2 separate regions of the Homo sapiens genome follow, and region 2 is linked to region 1. The links come from fine-mapping of genetic effects on gene expression. Tissue or cell type: whole blood. Region 1 holds a variant in brackets; the other region holds the start of a gene. All regions are shown on one strand. Distances are from middle to middle.

Region 1 (10,624 bases):
GAGAGATTGTAGGAGATTCGGAGTTAGAGAAGATGTAACAATGGTAGCAGGGGTCAGGGAGACTGGAAGATGCTGTCTTGTTGGCTTTGAAGTGGAGGAAGGGGCCATGAGCCAAGGAATGCAGGTTTCTTCTAGAAACTGGAAAAGGCAAAGGAATGGAATTTCCCATAGAGCCTCCAGAAGTAATGCAGCCCTGCCAACACCTTGATTTTAGCTCAGTGAAACCCATTTCAGACTTCAAACTTCCAGAACTGTAAGATAGTAAGTTTATTTAAAGCCATTAAATTTGTGGTAATTTGTTGCAACAGCAATAGGAAAGTAATACAATATCCAAGCTATTGGAGGGAAAAAAATGAAGATCATAAACACTTAGTCAATCCAAGGAAGGATGAAAGGAAAGAAACAGAGAACAAGTAGGACAAATAGAAAGCCCAGGATAAAATATAGGTTTAAATTCATATATATATCAGCCAGTTATCTTAAATATAAGTGGAATAAATATTACAGTCAAAAGACAAAGATTGTTTATCTGGACTAAAACACTTTAACTAAATGCTATTTATAAGAGACATATCTAAAACATGAGGAGACAGAAAGGTTGGTAAACAAATGGAAACAGTAAACAGAAAAAGATATTCCATACAAATGCTTTCTAAAAGAAAGCTGCATAGCTATAACTATCAGACAAAATTGTTTTCAGGGTAAAAGCATTTCTAGAAATTAAAAAGTTACCATAATGATAAGAGATTTAAATCACCAATATGTTAAAACAGTTTTAAATCTTTATGACTGGACTAAATACAGTTAAAATACAAATAAATACAAAGATTGTCAGAGTGGATAGTAGAACACAATCTAACTACATACTACTTATAAAAGACACCTTGAGCATAACACAGAAAGGTTGAAAAGAAAATGATGGAAAGAAGATATAACATGCAAATATTAACTGAAAGAAATTCTAGTTATATCAGACAAGCCAACATTAAGGCTTCTAGAAGTATTACTAAAGATTGAAAGGGAGATTAATAAATTTATATGTACCTCATAAATTAGAATAAAAATATATGAAACAAATCTGATAGAACTAAAAGGAGAAATAGATATATCCACAGTCATAGTTGGAGTTTTCTTTTTAGATGCATCTCTTTTAGTACTATATAAAACAAGCAGAAAAAAAAATCAATAGAGATACATATTTTTTTCCTGCTTTTTTTTTTTTTTTCAGACAAGGTCTCACCCTGTCACCCAGGCTGTAGTGCAGTGATGCGATCACGGCTTCCCACAGCCTCCACTTCTTGAGCTGAAGTGATCCTCCCACCTCAGCTTCCCGTGTAACTGGAACTACAGGTATGCACTACTATGCCTGGCTAATTTTTTAATTTTTTGTAGAGATAGGGGTCTCCCTATATTGTACAGGCTGGTCTTGAACTCCTGGACTCAAATGATCCTCCTGCCTCGGCCCCCACAAAATACTGGGATTTACAGGCATGAGGCACTATGCCCTGCCAAGATACAGAAGATTTTAACATGACCAACGAATTTGATTTAGTGATGTACATGGAACATTGCACCTCAAAGTTGCAAATGTACATGGAACATTTATTAAAATTGATGATATACTATGAATATCATTGATTGTATACAATTTCTCTGATCACAGTGGAATTCAGCTACAAATCAATATCAATAAGATAGCCAGGAAATCTAAATTAAAGAAAAACAAAAGAATAAGACAGATGGAGAACTGAAATAGGGCTTTGTTATTAATAAAGCTAATTTAGATATGGCATGTATCTGCAGGCAAGTAGGTTTTCTAATACAGACAAATCTTTCTCAAAGAAACTAGAGACAGCAAGAAGCATTCCTACCCTAACGTAGTTCAAAGGTGCAAAAGTAAAAAAGAGAATGGTGTGTTTCTAGCACATCAGGTAGTTATATTTTGAAGCTTGGTATTTGCAGAAGGAAGTAGTGGAAGATGAGCAAGAGAAGGGTCACATATTGTATTTAGCAGAATAAATTTTATCCTGAAAGTGATAGAGAGATATAGCATTACTTAAAGCAGACGAAGGACCTTAGCAGCACAGTGGGGGGATAAAAAGAATTTGAAAGGCAAACCTATTAGCTGGCTCTCTGTAATTTGGGGTATCATAACATCTGAATCAAAATAGTCAAATTGAGAATAGAAAGGAAGGTGTGAAAATTACAAGGATGGCCAGGCGCGGTGGCTCACACCTGTAATCCCAGCACTTTGGGAGGCCGACGCGGGTGGATCACGAGGTTAGGAGTTCAAGACCAACCTGGCCAAGATGGTGAAACCCCGTCTCTACTAAAAATACAAAAATTAGCCGGGCATGGTAGCGGGTGCCTGTAATCCCAGCTACTCAGGAGGCTGAGGCAGGGAATTGCTTGAATCCGGAGGCGGAGGTTGCAGTGAGCCAAGATCGCACCACTGCACTCCAGCCTGGATGACAGAGCGAGACTCCATCTCCAAAAAAAAAAAAAAAAAAAAAAAAAAGAAAAGAAAAAGAAAATTACAAGGATTAAGGGGCTCTACTCAACAGAATTCTAGCCCTTGCCTATTTCACAGTTCACCTGCTAACTACTCTTTCTGTTGCTTAGTACCTTGCAAAATAATGCAAAGTGGGTACAACTCAAGATTTTTGCAATTTCTGGAATGCTCCACCATCAAGAACTTTGCTAGCTGATCCTTTCTTGTGTTTATGTTCCAGCTGGATTGTTACCTCCTCAGAGAAGTCTTTTCTGATTATACAAAGTTAACATTCATTCCTTTTGAATCCTGGTTAATTTTCCTCATTGGATTGAATGTATCATGTGTTTGTTTATTTTTCTGTTTATCTCCCTCCTCTGTTGTAAGCGCTCCAAAAGCTTGTCTGTCTTGTTCCCTATTTTGTCTTCAGTGCCTAGCAAATTGCCTAGTACATAGTAGATGCTCAATAAATGCTTGTAAGTGAATGGATGAATTGGATGTGTGGATTTTGGGAGCAGAAGGACTCAAGAATGGCACTTGTATTTCTGGCTTAGTTAATTAGCTGGATAGTGGCACTGTAGTAGGAAATACCAGAGGAAAAGCAGGTTTGCAGGGGAAAGTCGTGATGATGTACTGTCCTTTATTTGTGAGAATACCATAGACAGGCTGTTCCTAGACTATGTCAGACCAGCAGAGGCAAATAAGCCCTTTGGGAATCTCAAAAGGAAGTGATATTAAAAGTATTTTAACAACTTGTCGTGCATGAGCACTGACTGTAATATTGGAGCAGAGTCATGGAGGCCCCTGCTTTTTCAGACATTTACCTCAGGGGTGCCTAGGGAGGAGTTAAAGTGACTAGGGTGTTTATAGCTTTTATCTATTGATATGGAAGTATTTAAGTCTTTTTACAATCTGTCCTCATACTAGAATGTTCTAGCTAAATGTCCCCATATCATTTCTGGCATTGGGTAAAGTGCCTAGCATGAATCAGATCTGTTGTAAGTGGGATCTGATGATAATAAATATAATAATGATGCCGCTGATGACAGCAAACATTTATTCTTAAAACAGCCCTACCACTAGTTTTATACTTTATGTGCATTACTTTGGTTGATCATCACAATAGCCCTAAGAAGTGTTTTGTTGTTGTTGTTGTTGTTGTTTTTTAATTGATGAAGAAGTTGAAGGTTAAAAAGGTTAAGTAACAGATTTAAGGTCATATAGCTAATAAGTGAAAGTTACAGGATTGGAACATAGGCAGTATACTTTTAACCATTTATATTTGTTTCTCCTTGTTGCTAAAAAAGCAAACATGTGGCTATGTAGATAGCCAGCACATAGTCTGTTAACCTGACTGGTCCTGCCCTTCTACCCATACCCTACCTAAAGCAATGTGGTGTATTAGAAAAAGTTGTGAAGCTTAGGGTTTGGTTCTAAACCTAACATTATCTAGTTGCTTGACTCATTATTTTCTTTGGGTAAAATTAGAAGGACTTTGATAAAATGATTTCTTTTTTCTTTTTTTTTTTTTTTGAGATGGAATTTTGCTCTTGTTGCCCAGTCTGGAGTGCAATGGCGTGATCTCGGCTCACTGCAACCTCCGCCTCCCGGGTTCAAGTGGTTCTCCTGCCTCAGCCTCCTGAGTAGCTGGGATTACAGGCATGTGCCACCATGCCCAACTAATTTTTTATTTTTAGTAGAGATGGGGTTTCTTCAGGTTGGTCAGGCTGGTCTCGAACTCCCGACCTTAGGTGATCCACCCGCCTTGGCCTCCCAAAGTGCTGGGACTACAGGCATGAGCCACCATGCCTGGCCCCTGATAAAATGATTTCTAAGCCTTCGGCTCTGCTAATGTTTTTGAGGCCTCTTTTTCTGTTAATGTTCTGTAATTCTACTTATGTATTATTTTTTCAGGTTTATTGAGGTCTAATTGATATGTAGTAAGTTACA[T/A]ATACTTGAAATCGATAATTTGATGTTTTCATGTTTTCATGTATGTATGTACCTATGAAACCATCACCACAGTCAAGATAATGAGTATAGGCTCGGCACGGTGGCTCATGCCTGTAATCCCAGCACTTTGGGAGGCTGAAGCAGGCGGATCACGAGGTCAGGAGATCGAGACCATCCTGGCTAACACGGTGAAACCCCGTCTCTACTAAAAAATACAAAAAATTAGCCATGCGTGGTGGTGGGCACCTGTAGTCCCAGCTACTTGGGAGGCTAAGGCAGGAGAATGGCGTGAACCCAGAAGACAGAGCTTACAGTGAGCAGAGATCACGCCACTGCACTCCAGCCTGGGCGACAGAGCGAGACACTGTCTCAAAAAAAAAAAAAAAAAAGATAATGAGTATATTACCCCCACTCCAAAGTTTCCTCCTGCCCCACCAAGTCCTTCCTTTCTGTCCCTCTCTGTGCTTCATCTCCCCACTCCTCACTGTCCCGAGGCAGCCTCTGATCTACTTTTTGTTACTATTGATTAATTTCCATTTTCTACAATTTTATATAAATTGAATCATGCAGTGGAGTTCAGCTACAAATCAGTATTAATAAGATAGCTAGAAAAGCCAAATTAAAGACAAAATAAGAACTGAAATATGACTTTGTTATTAATAAAGCAAATGCAAGAGAATATGGCACATATCTGTATGGCACATACTCTTTTTGTTGGCATTCTTTTGCCCAGCATAATTATTTTGAGATTCATCCATATTGTTGCATGTTTAACCAGCTTACTTCTTTATTTCTGAGTAGTGTTCCATTGAGCCACAGTTTGTTTTCTAAATGGATTAATCTGTTGATAGATACTTGATAGTTTTCAATTTTTGGCTATTTTGAATAGATTTGCTATGAACACCAGTGTACAACTCTTTGTGTAAACATGTGATTGCTTTTTTCTTAAGTAAATATGTAGTAATGGCATGTCTGGATCATGTAGCAGGTATATGTTCAACTTTAGAAACTTGTCAAACTGTTTTCTAAAGTGGTCATGCCATTTTACAGTCCCACCAGTAGAATAGGAGAATACTACTTGTCACATATCATAAACATTTGGAATGGTCAATCTTTGTAATTTTATCCTTTTTAATCAATGTATATTGTTGTCTTTTTATAGTTTTAATTTGCATTTTCCTAATCACTAACTGTGTTGAGCATGTTTTCATGTGCTTTTTGGCCACTTGTAGATTTTTTTGGAGAAGTGTCTTTTCAAATCTTTTGCCTATTTTTTAATTGGGTTATTTTTCTTTTTATTATTAAGTTGTAATAGTTTTTTATATATGCTGGATATAATCCATATTTTATTGGATGTGTGATATGCAAATATCTTCTCTCAGTCTCCGAGTGGTCTTTTCACTTTGTTAATGGTGTCTTTTAAAGCACAAAGTTTTTAATTTCAATTAAATCTAGTACATCAAATTTTTCTTTGATCATGTGTGCTTTTGGTGTTGTGTCTAAGAAATTACTGCCTAACCCAAGTTTACAAAGATTTACTCCTATGTTTTCTTCTAAGAGTTTTGAAGTTTTAACTCTTACATATAGGTGCATAATCAGTTTTGAGTTAGTTTTTGTATATGGTGGGAGGCAGGGATCCAATTTTTTTTTTTGTGGGAAGGGCATGTGGATATAATGTGGATATAAATATTGATATTCAGTGTCCTAGCACCATTTGTTGAAAACACTATTTCTTTCCCTTTAAAATTTCTTGGCACCTTTGTTAAACATCAATTGACTATAAATGTAAGGGTGTATTTCTGGGCTCTGAATTTAATTCTATTGATTTATTTATCTGTCCTTATACTAATATTATATTGTCCTGATGACTAGTTTTGTAGTAAATTTTGAAGTTAGTCTTTCCACTTTGTTCTTTTTTTTTCCCCAAGATTGTTTTGGCTATTCTGCACCCTTTACGTTCCCATATGAGTTTTAGGATCAGCTTGTCAATTTCTGTAAAAAAGCTGGAAGGGATTTTGGTAGAGATTGTGTTGAATCTGTAGATCAATTTGGGGAGTATTGCCACCTTAGCAATATTAATAATATTACCATTTTAATGATATTACATCTTCCAATCCATGAACATGGGATATCTTCACAAGTATTGAGCTCTTCTTTAATATCTTTCAGTAATGTCTTGTGGTTTGCAGTGTATAAGTCTTGTACTTCATTTCTTAAAGTATTTGTATTTTAAGTTTTTAAAAATGTTATTATGAATGGAATTGTTTTCTATTTCATTTTTGGAGTGTTCATGGTTAGTATATAGAAATGCAATTAACTTTTGTATATTTCTCTTATATCTTGCAACCTTAGTGAACTTCTGGTAAGTTTGTTAGTGAATTTCTTAGATTTTTTTTTTTTATTTACAAGATCTTGTTGTCTGTGAATGAAGAGTGTTTTACTTCTTGATTTCCAAGATGAATGCCTTTGACAAAATATTTTTAGCCTAATTGGCTTAGCTAGAATCTCAAATATAGTGTTGAATAAAGGTAGAGAGAGTAGAAATCTTTTTTTTTTTTCCTGGCTTTAGAGGGAGACTTTCAATCTTTCACCAGTTCCTGTGATGTTAACTATAGATTTTTTCATAGATGCTGTTTATTATTATGTTGAAAGATTCTCTTCTATTCTCAGTATTTTTATCACGAATATTGGATTTTGTCAAATTTTTGTATCTATTGAGATTATCCTATAGTTTTTGTCCTTTATTCTGTTAATATGATGCATTACATGAATTGATTATCAGATGTTAAACTAATCTTGCAATCCTGGGATAAATCTTGCTTGGTTATGATACATAAATCTTTTATACGTTTCTGGATTTGGCTTGCCAGTATTTCATTGAGGATTTTGGGTGTATGTTCTCAAGGGGTATCCATCCTTTTATTTTTAACTTATTTGTATTTAAAATGTTTCTTGTAGGCAGCATATACTTGTATCATACTTCTTTATCCAGTCTGGCAATTTCTGCCTTTTAATTGGCATATTTTAAAGTATTCACACTTGTGATTCTTGATATAATTAAGTTCAAATCTATCATCTTGCTATTTGTTTTCTACTCATCCTATCTGTTCTTTGTTCCCCCTTTCTTTTTCTGCTTTCTTTTATTAATTGAGTATTTTAAAATTATTCCATTTTATCTCCTTTGTTGGCTTATAAGCTGTAACTCTGTTTTCTTATTTTAGTGGTTGTGTTAGGGTTTATAGTATATATCTTTAACTTTCTACAGTCAGTCCTCAAATGATATGATACCACATCACATATACTATAATTATTTACATTTTTACTTTTATTTCTCCCCCGGCCTTTGTGCTATTGATGTAATACATTTTAGTTTTACATATGTTACAAACCTTTTGTCTCAGTATAATTTTTTTGTCTAAGCTTTAATAAACTTGTAAAGAAATCCCAATAATAATAAATCATGTATTTATACTTATGGTGCACTTTATTCCTTTGTGTAGATTCATATTTCTATCAGATATTATCCTTTGGCCTGAAGGACATCATTTAACACTTCTTGTGGTGTAGCTCTGTTGGTAATATGTTCTTTCAACTTTTGTATGTCTGAAGAAGTCTTTATGTCACCTACATTTTTGAAAGATTTTCTCTGAGTGTCAAATTCTAGGTTGATGGGTTTTTTTCTTTCAGTACATTAAAGATCTTGCTCTACTGTTTTTGTTTTGTTTCCATTGAGAGCTATGCTACTATCCTTTTTAATTAATTAATTAATTTTTTGAGACAGAGTCTCTCTGTGTCACCCAGGCTGGAGTGCAGTGGCATGATCTCAGCTTATTGCAGCCTCTGCCTCCCAGATTCAAGTGATTCTTATGCCTCAGCCTCCCGAGTAGCTGGGATTACAAGCACACACCACCATGCTCAACTATATGCTGCTATTCTTAATCTTTGCTTTGATGTACATAACATGTCTTTTTTCTCTGGGTGCTTTTAAGATTTTCCCATCACTGTTTTTGAATGATGTTATTATGGCGTGGTGTGCATTGGTGTAGTTTTCTTCATGTTTCCTGACCTTAGTGTTGGCGGAGGTTCTTAGATCTGTGGTTTGTAGTTATCAAGTTTGGAAAATTTTGGCCATTATTTCTTCAAATATGCCCTCCCCCCTATCCCCAGTCTTCTTTGTGGACTCCAAATACATGTATTTTGGGTCACTTGAAATTGTCCCATGAGTCACAGATGCTTTTTATCATTTTGATGTTAGTCTTTTCTCTGTGTCTCATTTTAGTTAGTTTATCTTACTATGCCTTCAAGTTCATTAATATTTTCTTTTGCAATATCCAATCTGGTATTAATCCCATCCAGTATATTTTCCATCTCAGACATTATAGTTTTCATCTCTAGAAATTGGATTTGGGTCTTTTTAATATCGTCCATATCTCTACTTAACCTTTTGAACATATTGAGTCCAGCTATAACTATTTTAGTGTCCTCAACTGCCTTGTCTCAATTTTAGGTTGTTTCTAATTGATTGATTTTTTTTTCCTCTTCATTATGGGTTCTATATATTTTTTTGCTTCCTTGTATACCTGGTACTTTTTTTAATTGAATACCAGACATTGTGAGTTTTACCTTGAATGCTGGATATTTTTGGATTTCTGTAAATTTGCTTTGGGACACAGTTAAGTTTTGTGTAAACAATTTGATCCCTTTTCCAGTCTGATTTGTGGGGACAAGCATCACTCCTGACCTTGGTGAATACCAGTTATGTATAGTTTTTGTAAATTTTTCTGGTGTTTTTTTCCCGCAGTCTTGTGTAGCTTCCTTTTTTTGTGTGTGTGCTGATCAGTACTCTGTTGAATACTTGAGTGGGACCCTCTGCTGATCTCCATTGTTCTCTGTATGTACCTCTTTATTCTACAGTAGTCTGTTATGCAAACTCTCGCTGCCTTATTCTCCACATACTTTCAGCTTTGTCTCTTCATTTCAGAAAATCTTCTCGGCTTTGCTTGGGTAATTTCCCATGGCCTGGAAACTCCCTCAAGGGAGTAAGGTGGAAGGCTTACCTCATTTAGTTCCTATTTCTCAGTTCTTTGCTGTCTGATAGCCAGTGTCTTGAAAATTGCTGTTCCATATATTTTATTTGCTTTTCAGGTGGTAGGATAAATCTGTCTCTGTTACTCTATTTTGTACAAAAGTAAAATATCCATGTGTTTTTTAACTGTCTTTCCTGTAGTGTATTACTGGGTGTTCATTTTAATTAGATTTCACATTTCATTCATATAAACTTTTCTCTCTTTCTACTACCTTCCTCCATCTTCCCCAACTCATTTTGGATGACTCAAGGCCATCAATGTTGAGGACTTTTCCCCCTGAAGTAGCAGTCATTTTTAACCAATTCTACCACATTCCTGTCATGGTTAATGTTAAATATTTGCAAACTGATTGGGGTCAGAGATGTGGTTTGATGAATATATTCTTAGTTTTTATGGGAGATAGTTGTACTTTGTTTCCTTATCTATCAACTAGGTATTTGCTGAGTTCCAATTATATTCCCAGCATCATGTAGTGTGCTGAGTGCTAAGCAGAAAGTGAGTACAATATTGTTTTTGAGCAGTTTATGTTCTAACAGGGGAGACAGAACAAGATCTCATAAAATGTTAAGAAAAATGTTAAACTTTTTTTTTTTAAAGACACTAGACATTTAGAGATGAGAGACTATTCGTTTGATTTGGGTGGTTACGGAGTATTTTACTCTGATATGCTGGGGCTGAACAGGGCCTTTGAAAACGCATACATTTTAAAAATGGAAATAGTCACAAGATGTAATGGAAGAGAAGATACCATTTATGATAGCCAAGCAAATTATACAGGCATACACTTAATGAGAAATCTTCAGAATTTTTATGAGAACTCTAAAAACTCCTAAAGGTATAAGCATAAACTTGAACAAATATAAAGATATACTATGTTCTGTGTAGGAAGACTCAATATTCTTAGAGATGTCAGTTTTAAAAAAATAATTTAGAAGTTTAATATGATCCTGATGAAAGTACCATCAGATTTTTCCTCCTAGGGCTAGACAGATTATAAAGTTCATTTTCGAGAACAGACAAGCAAGAATAGCTAAGAAAATGCAGAAAGTGAAGAGGGGTAAAGATGACTTGTCTTGCTACATGTTATAACATGATA
Region 2 (8,000 bases), 46 kb before region 1:
TTGTCCAGGGTGGAGTATAGTGGTGCGATCTCTATTCACTGCAACCTCTGCCCCCCAGGTTCAAGCAATTCTTGTGCCTCAGCCTCCCAAGTAGCTGGGATTACAGGCACCTGCCAACATGCCCTGCTAATTTTTCTAGTTTTAGTAGAGATGGGGTTTCACCATATCAGCCAGGCTGGTCTCCAACTCCTGGCCTCAAGTGATCCGCCCACCTCGGCCTCCCAAATGCTGGGATTACAGTTGTGAGCCATGGTGCCTGGCCATTTTATGAGGATTAAATAAGCAGATGTACATAAACATGGTTAGAAGAGTGCCTCACACATGATGGGTGCTCAGTTGATGTCATTCCTCTCTGCCTTCCTCCTTGAAAGTTTTAGAAAAAGACTCAGTGGAGGAGAGAGTTCACGCGAAATTATTAGGACCACAGTGATCAGGTTACAGAATGGTGAAGCTGGAGATGACTCTAGGGTGCCTAGAGGGGGGTTCTTAAATTCCACCTTTCCCAGGCATCACCTAAAAATATACTGACATAGAAAATCTTGGAATGGGCCCCTGGAATTGTTAGTTTAACAAAAAAAGTTCCAGTAGCCTTTGATGCCTTTTTTTTTTTTTTTTTAAATTACTGATCTGGTCCAAACCCTCATTTTATTTTTCCTCAAAAACGTTTTTTAAAACTTTTATTCCACTTTCAAGAGTACATGTGCATGTTGGTTGTATAGATAAATTACTGTGTCGTAGGAGTTTGGTGTATATATGATGTCATCACCCAGGTAATAAGCATAGTACCCAGTAGGTAGTTTTTCAATCCCCTCCCTCCTCCTGCCTCCCACCCTGAAGCAGGCCCTGGTGCCTGTTTTTCCCTTCTTTGTGTCCATGTGTATGTACTCAATGCCAAACCCTCATTTGAGAGATGAGCCCCAGAGGGGTGAAGTGACAGCCCTAAGCCATGCAGAAGTTTCAATCAATGATTCGTTCATCATTCAATATATGTTTTCTGAACACCTTCTGTGTTCAAGGCACCATGCTGGCTTCTAGGGGGACTCAGTGGTGAAAAGCCTGACCCCAGTACCTGTTCTTACAGAACTCATAGCCTAGTGGGAGCCTAGATATCAGACACGGATCAGGTAGACAGTATGGACAATCATACATGGTCATAAATGCTTTCCATCCTGTACAAAGTAAAGGCTGCAGCGTCAGAGGTCGCAGGGGGACCTGACTTAGATTGGGGAACCAGAGAAGGCTCCTCTTAGGAAGTGACCTTTCAGATGAGACCTGAAGGGTTTGCAGAAAAGAACCAGGTGGAGAGTGGGCAAAGCCAGGGAAAGAGCATGGCACAGTTGAGGCACCGAGGGGGTGCCAGTTTGACTGACGGAGGCAAGGGAGCGCCCAGGTGGGGCTGCAGGGCCACCATGCAGGCCTTTTCTCACTGGTGTTCCCCGGTTCTGTCCATAGCAAACGGGCCCCATCAGTGCCACCCTGGTGATGACACGCCCCATCAAAGGGCCCCGGGAAATCCAGCTGGACTTGGAAATGATCACTGTCAACACTGTCATCAACTTCAGAGGCAGCTCCGTGATCCGACTGCGGATATATGTGTCGCAGTACCCATTCTGAGCCTCGGGCTGGAGCCTCCGACGCTGCCTCTCATTGGCACCAAGGGACAGGAGAAGAGAGGAAATAACAGAGAGAATGAGAGCGACACAGACGTTAGGCATTTCCTGCTGAACGTTTCCCCGAAGAGTCAGCCCCGACTTCCTGACTCTCACCTGTACTATTGCAGACCTGTCACCCTGCAGGACTTGCCACCCCCAGTTCCTATGACACAGTTATCAAAAAGTATTATCATTGCTCCCCTGATAGAAGATTGTTGGTGAATTTTCAAGGCCTTCAGTTTATTTCCACTATTTTCAAAGAAAATAGATTAGGTTTGCGGGGGTCTGAGTCTATGTTCAAAGACTGTGAACAGCTTGCTGTCACTTCTTCACCTCTTCCACTCCTTCTCTCACTGTGTTACTGCTTTGCAAAGACCCGGGAGCTGGCGGGGAACCCTGGGAGTAGCTAGTTTGCTTTTTGCGTACACAGAGAAGGCTATGTAAACAAACCACAGCAGGATCGAAGGGTTTTTAGAGAATGTGTTTCAAAACCATGCCTGGTATTTTCAACCATAAAAGAAGTTTCAGTTGTCCTTAAATTTGTATAACGGTTTAATTCTGTCTTGTTCATTTTGAGTATTTTTAAAAAATATGTCGTAGAATTCCTTCGAAAGGCCTTCAGACACATGCTATGTTCTGTCTTCCCAAACCCAGTCTCCTCTCCATTTTAGCCCAGTGTTTTCTTTGAGGACCCCTTAATCTTGCTTTCTTTAGAATTTTTACCCAATTGGATTGGAATGCAGAGGTCTCCAAACTGATTAAATATTTGAAGAGAGCTTGTGTTTGGTTCATTTTGACATCATAGACGAGTCAGCCTTTGGGGTTCTAGTTCTGTTTAAACCTGTTTATTGTGCGCTGGCTTAGAAAGCTCTCCAGAGAGCTAGGGCATTATCTGTGACTCTGGCAAATTGATGGGAGGGGGGCGGTGGGGCAGAGAAATAGGGGTCGTGGGGAAGTTAGGGGGAGGCATCATCCCTGAGTCCTGTTTCATCTGATTAGAAAACAACCAACAATCCTTCTCTTACGTAGATTATTTCCGGTGCTCCTGCAGAACAGGAATGTATTCAAGTTACTTTAAACCAGTGGCCTTCAACCCTGGCTGCATAGACGGATAACCAGTAGAACTTTGGAGGAAAGATTGATTCCCCGGGACATGCCCCCAGACACTCTGATGTCATTGGGCTTAGGTAGGGCCCGGCCATCAGGATTTTTGAAAACTTGACTATGTAGCCAGAGTTGAGAATGTATTGTTATAAACCCTAGAAAGAGAGGTGGACAGATGGGGCTGGAGCCCTAGCTGCCTTGCCCTCAATGTCTTTTCTGCTCATTGTAGGATACATTATTCTTTTCCTGGTCAGGGCCTCTGGACATCCTTCAAGTCTTAGAACCCTGTGCAGGGGCCAAGAGAGTCAACATTGCAAGTCACAGGAGAACAGGTTGGGATGGCTGTCTTTATGTGCCATCCCAGGAATCAACCCAAGGCTTCAGGAAAAAAGTGCACTCCCTGATAGCTGAGGTGGAGTCTACAGATCCATCTGAGGGTGCTCCCATCCTACCTGTTGGTGAGGTATTCATTAAGGACCCCCACAGTGCCTATCAGGAGTTGTGTCCTGGACCCCTAGTCTTAGTAGGCATTCCACAGATCCTTGTGATATGGACAGGAGACAGGGAAATACTGGGTAGAAGAGGGTGGTTCCCTGGCAAAGGCCCCACCCTCAAGCCTGGGTACCCATGGCCCTAAATGAGGACAGCCATTCCTGTTTTCATCCCTAAAAAGTTGCCTTTTGGCCTGCCATGTCCCCTATCCTGTACCCATATAAACCCTGAACCCCAGGCTCCAGGCTCCAGAAGCAGACGGGGAGACAAGAAGATGAGCAGACATGAATGGCAGAAAAGCACGGCAAAGAAGGAGAGAAGAGAAGGAACATTGGGAGGAATTCGACTGGAGACGATCTGAAAACTGGCCACTGGATGGCCAAACTCCAGGGGAAGATCATCTTCCCACTCCATCCCCTGTCCAGCTCCCCATCCATCCTACTTAGAGCCACCTCCACCACTCAATAAAACCCCTGCATTCATCCTGCAAATCCATGTGTGACCTGATCCCTCCGGGATGCTGGACAAGAGCTCGGGATACAGGAAACTGTCACACTGGCCCTCTGCCCTGGCAAAAAGGGAGAGGGTCCACTAAGCTGGTTAACGCTTAAGCTGTCCACGGATGGCAAGGCTGAAAGACTGCACTGTTTCAGTGCCTACTCGGGCTTTGGAAGTCACAGACACCGACCCCGGGATGCTGTCATGGGGCTGGGGCCCAAAAGTGCTCACCCTGGTTCCTGCACCTGCCTGTCTGCGTGCTCCCCTTCCCATAAGGGGTTTTAGCTTGGGGTGGCTGAAGAGAGAGCCACACCCCTGTTGCACATCCTGTGAGGGGGCCAGGGAATTCTCCTGTTCCACTTAGTAGTATCTTAGGCCTTCAGTGGAAGGAAACAGCATGTTCCACGCCCTGTAGCATCCAAGAAGCTGCAAGTCCTCCCTCCTCACCCCAAGAGCATTTCTCACACCCACACCACACACCTCACTTTGCTGTTGGCTGTGGTTATTTTTTTCTCTAACTAAGCACATCTAAACCATGCCTAGTTGTGGTTCTTCAGTCAGGGTCAAGTGGTGTTAGCAATCACATCAGCACCAAATGGCTCAGGATGCTCTGGTTTCAAAGCTTATAAAACAGAGGGTGATTCCCTTGGGACTCACTCAGCTCGGCTCCGAAAAGCAAAGGCCAGAAGGCAGCAGTGAGCCTGGGTCCCTGCTGTGTAGGGAGACTCAGGGGCTGGGAAGAAGGATGGAATCAGAAATGCTGAAGGTTTACGTGAGCTTTGCACCGAGCGCCTCCGAACCACTGCCTCTGGGCTCAACAGAACACAGGGGTAAGTCTCCATGAACTTCTCAAAAAGAAAACTGGGAAGCTTTCTGTCTTGATGATTTGAGGACCCACTGGTTTCAGAGGTGCCACATTTGGAACCAGATCCGAGTCTTTAAGGTTTGTGTTTTATTTGTTCATGTCAAAATGTGGCTTCCTGCTTCTAAGAAAAGAAACTCAGGCTCATAAAAGCAGCCTCCAAGGGCTTCTTGGACCTCAAATTGCGCTTTCAAAATGTGGTCTGATGGGTTCAGTGTAAATGCACCAGAGGCATGTGGGATCCATTTACCTTAAAATACACTTGGGCCTAAAAATTAAGAGAAAAACAGTCCAGGGCAAAGTGTATACTGCAAAGTCAAGCTCCAAACATTTGGGAAACAGTTCTAGAGGCTGCTGGAACCCCAAATGCTACTTGCTTTACCTACCCCTTGGGAATCATCAAATGTTATTTTTTGTACAAGACTGGGGATGAGCCTGCTCTCTGATCCCAGTGCTGTGCTCTGCTGTGCAGTTCTAATGGGGCAGGCTGTTTCCTGGACCCTGAGATCTCCAGGCTCCCTGTGCCTATTCCTTGTCAGCTTTGCCCCATCCAGGAGCTGGGCTGAGCTTGTCAAGTGACCTCTGCTTTGTACCACTCCATCAGGTCCTGAAGAATGAAGGGTACCAAGGTGGAAGGGGCGCAGGATTAAGAGTAGGGACGCCTGCAAAAGCTCTCGTGTTACCACCTCATCTTCCAACTTTCATGTGGGTGAAAACGTTCATCCTAAATAATTGCTTCTAATTCTGAAGTTTTGTGATTCCTTGAAATGTACTTTGGGGATGACAGCCAGCATTTCCATTTCACTGCAATTTCAGAGTTTTGCAGTGGTTTGCCAATCATAACACTTTCTAATTGGCACAAAATCCACCTACCTGTTGCCTCTCAGGCTTGGGTAACATACTTCAGACACTTTCTTAGGTAAGTCTTGGCCCTTGGGGTGTTATTTGCCCAGATGGTAAAAACATTTAAGTAGGTCTGATTATTTCATTTTCAGTGGTTTCAACGCATTTTTGTGGCCTGGGTGGTTACTGTAATGTGCCCAAGTTGTTCATTCTGAGCCAACGGGGTCACCCACAGAGAGAAGACTTGACAAAGGAACTCTCCTCTACTCCCCTCTTGCCAGATGAAATATTGTTTGTAAAAGGTCTTTGTCTTGAGAGGATCACATACTTTGGTTAAGAATCCACTTTGGTTAAGCCGGTTGCTGGATTCAGAGACATGAACAGGATAGACAGTCCACCGATAACTTTATAATAACACCTTTTTAATAACACCTTTAATAACTTTTTAATAACTTTAAAAGTTATTAAAACTTTATAAAAAGTTAATCTAAAACTTTAATAACTTTTTAATAACACCTTTAGCCAGGGGTTTATGCAGCATACACGACAAAACTGGAATATAATGTGGTAGGTGCAGTAGCAGGGTCCACAAAATTATTTTAGTTAGATTTTAAAAATTATTAAGACATCTGTTTTATACAAGAAAAATTCTTATGAAAATTTATAGACATGTGTTTGAAATTTAGAATAAGTTGCCTCTGCTTAGAATTATTAAGTATTTTGAAAGGAAACACTAATAAATGCTAGATAAACTTTTTCTTTTTGATACAATTTGTGTTTACTTTAAATGCAATATTTTTTTATCTGAAAAAAAACGTGAGCACTTAGCAAATCTCTTCATTATTTTGGAATTGGCCAATGCTTATAAACTACAAACAAATATACAGATTGTTCCTTGTGCTGATATTTTTGTTTTCAAATTTCTTAGTCCTGTTACTTAACAAATGGCTGATATCTTTGTTGGAATCCCTGAACATAGCTAAAAGATGTTTTTTTAAAAAAAAAAAAAAAAAAAAACCAAGAGGCTCCAAGACAAAGGAGTGCACAGAGGCAAAATTTATCACTTTGGTAGCTTTTGCGGGGATGAAAGCCTCCAGTTAGAATGTTTGACTTACTAATGGTTCTTAATAATGAATCTTAGCCAGCAGCCATCAGAGAAATAAATCATTAAAGTGAGAAAATAGGTGTCAACACAGGAGTGATCTACTGAATTGCCATTTTGGTGTTCTTTCAGAGGGGAACTGCATGTTGACAGGCAGTGACTTTTTCAGGAATTTGGGATATTCTTGAGCAATAATGTAAAGATGAAGGCAGGGGGCTGGGCACAGGGGCTCATGCCTGTAATCTGGGAGGCCGAAGTGGGCAGATCACTTGAGGCCAGGAGTTCAAGACCAGCCTGGTCGACATGGTGAAACCCGTCTCTACTAAAAATACAAAAATTAGGTGGGAGTGGTGGCACACACCTATAATCCCAGCTACTCAGAGACTGAGGCAGGAGAATTGCTTGAACCCAGGAGGCAGAGGTTGCAGTGAGCTGAGATTGCACCATTGCATTTCAGCCTGGGCAACAGAGCGAGAGTCTGTCTCAAAAAAAAAAAAAAAAAAAAAAGATGAAGGCAGGGTAAATTGTACACACATACAAATACAGTGCCATTATGATACCTGTTTATTAGGATTTGAGAAATTAATTAACATTGATTTAAGGCCACAGAGTCATTGGATCACTTGATTCTGTTTAAAAGAAGTTTTCGTTTGGGTAGGATTGTTTTGGTTTCAACCTGTTCCTTTTTTCTAAGTCTTCGTTTCCAACCTTCTACTCAGAATGAATTTGACATTGCAAAACTGGCTTGTATCACGATAGCTACTATGCTTTAAAATAGGGTAGGTGCTTTGGCATCTTTGGAGTTTTAACGTATGAACCATTCATAATTTATCCCTAAAGCGAGTGTGGATTGTTTTATTTGTGAACGTTCTACATCCCCTGATCTGAAAACTTACCAAAAAAGCCAACATTGAGATGAAGCAGGGACCCCTTTTAGGGGCCTCCTTCCCCCTACTCCCCTACAAGCATGGAAATAAAGCGAAATCTTGAGTTCCTGCAAGGGAAATTCCAGGCACCCAGCTAGCCCTGAGAAGTAAGGAGCAACTTGGTAAACAAGAAGGTAATAGTAGCTTAAAACAATAGCCAGGGAAGTTAGAGTTGCGAGATGTTTGGTTCCCTCCAGAGACTAAAGGTAACATCTTAACATATATCCCTGAGTTGTTTTTCAGAAACCCAGACCCCCACCAAATGGATCCCCTGGCATGCAGACCTCAGGTAAGGGAGAACTGAGGACTGAATTCTGAGGACTGAATTCTGACCTCTGTTCTTTATTCTGGGTTTTTTTCTTTTTTTTTGCCAGGGTCTGGCTCTGTTGCCCAGGTTGGAGTGTAGTGGTGTAATCATAGCTTACTGCAGCCTCGACCTCCTGTCCTGTGATCCTCCCATCTCAGCCTTTCGAGGAGCTGGGACTACAGCTACGTGCCAACATGTCAGGCTTTTTTTTTTT

What was found. PIP is the estimated chance that this variant, and not a neighbour inherited with it, causes the effect.
Region 2: TC2N starts here. The variant in region 1 is fine-mapped to the expression of TC2N in whole blood (INTERVAL, PIP 0.96).

What each region holds. Positions count from the first base shown.
Region 1 is chr14:91,816,921-91,827,544 of GRCh38, reverse strand. The region is part of intron 1 of TC2N (tandem C2 domains, nuclear); the gene reads left to right. Among named protein-coding and RNA genes, the nearest start is that of TC2N, 45 kb to the left of the region's middle. The variant T/A (reference allele first, on the strand shown) is at 4,442.
Region 2 is chr14:91,863,838-91,871,837 of GRCh38, reverse strand. It overlaps TC2N (tandem C2 domains, nuclear), which reads left to right and starts at 4,302. Exons shown (of 12, transcript NM_001128596.3): 1 at 4,302-4,576. FBLN5 (fibulin 5) reads left to right here. Exons shown (of 11, transcript NM_006329.4): 11 at 1,453-2,427. The coding sequence ends at 1,614. RefSeq lists an enhancer at 4,087-4,136.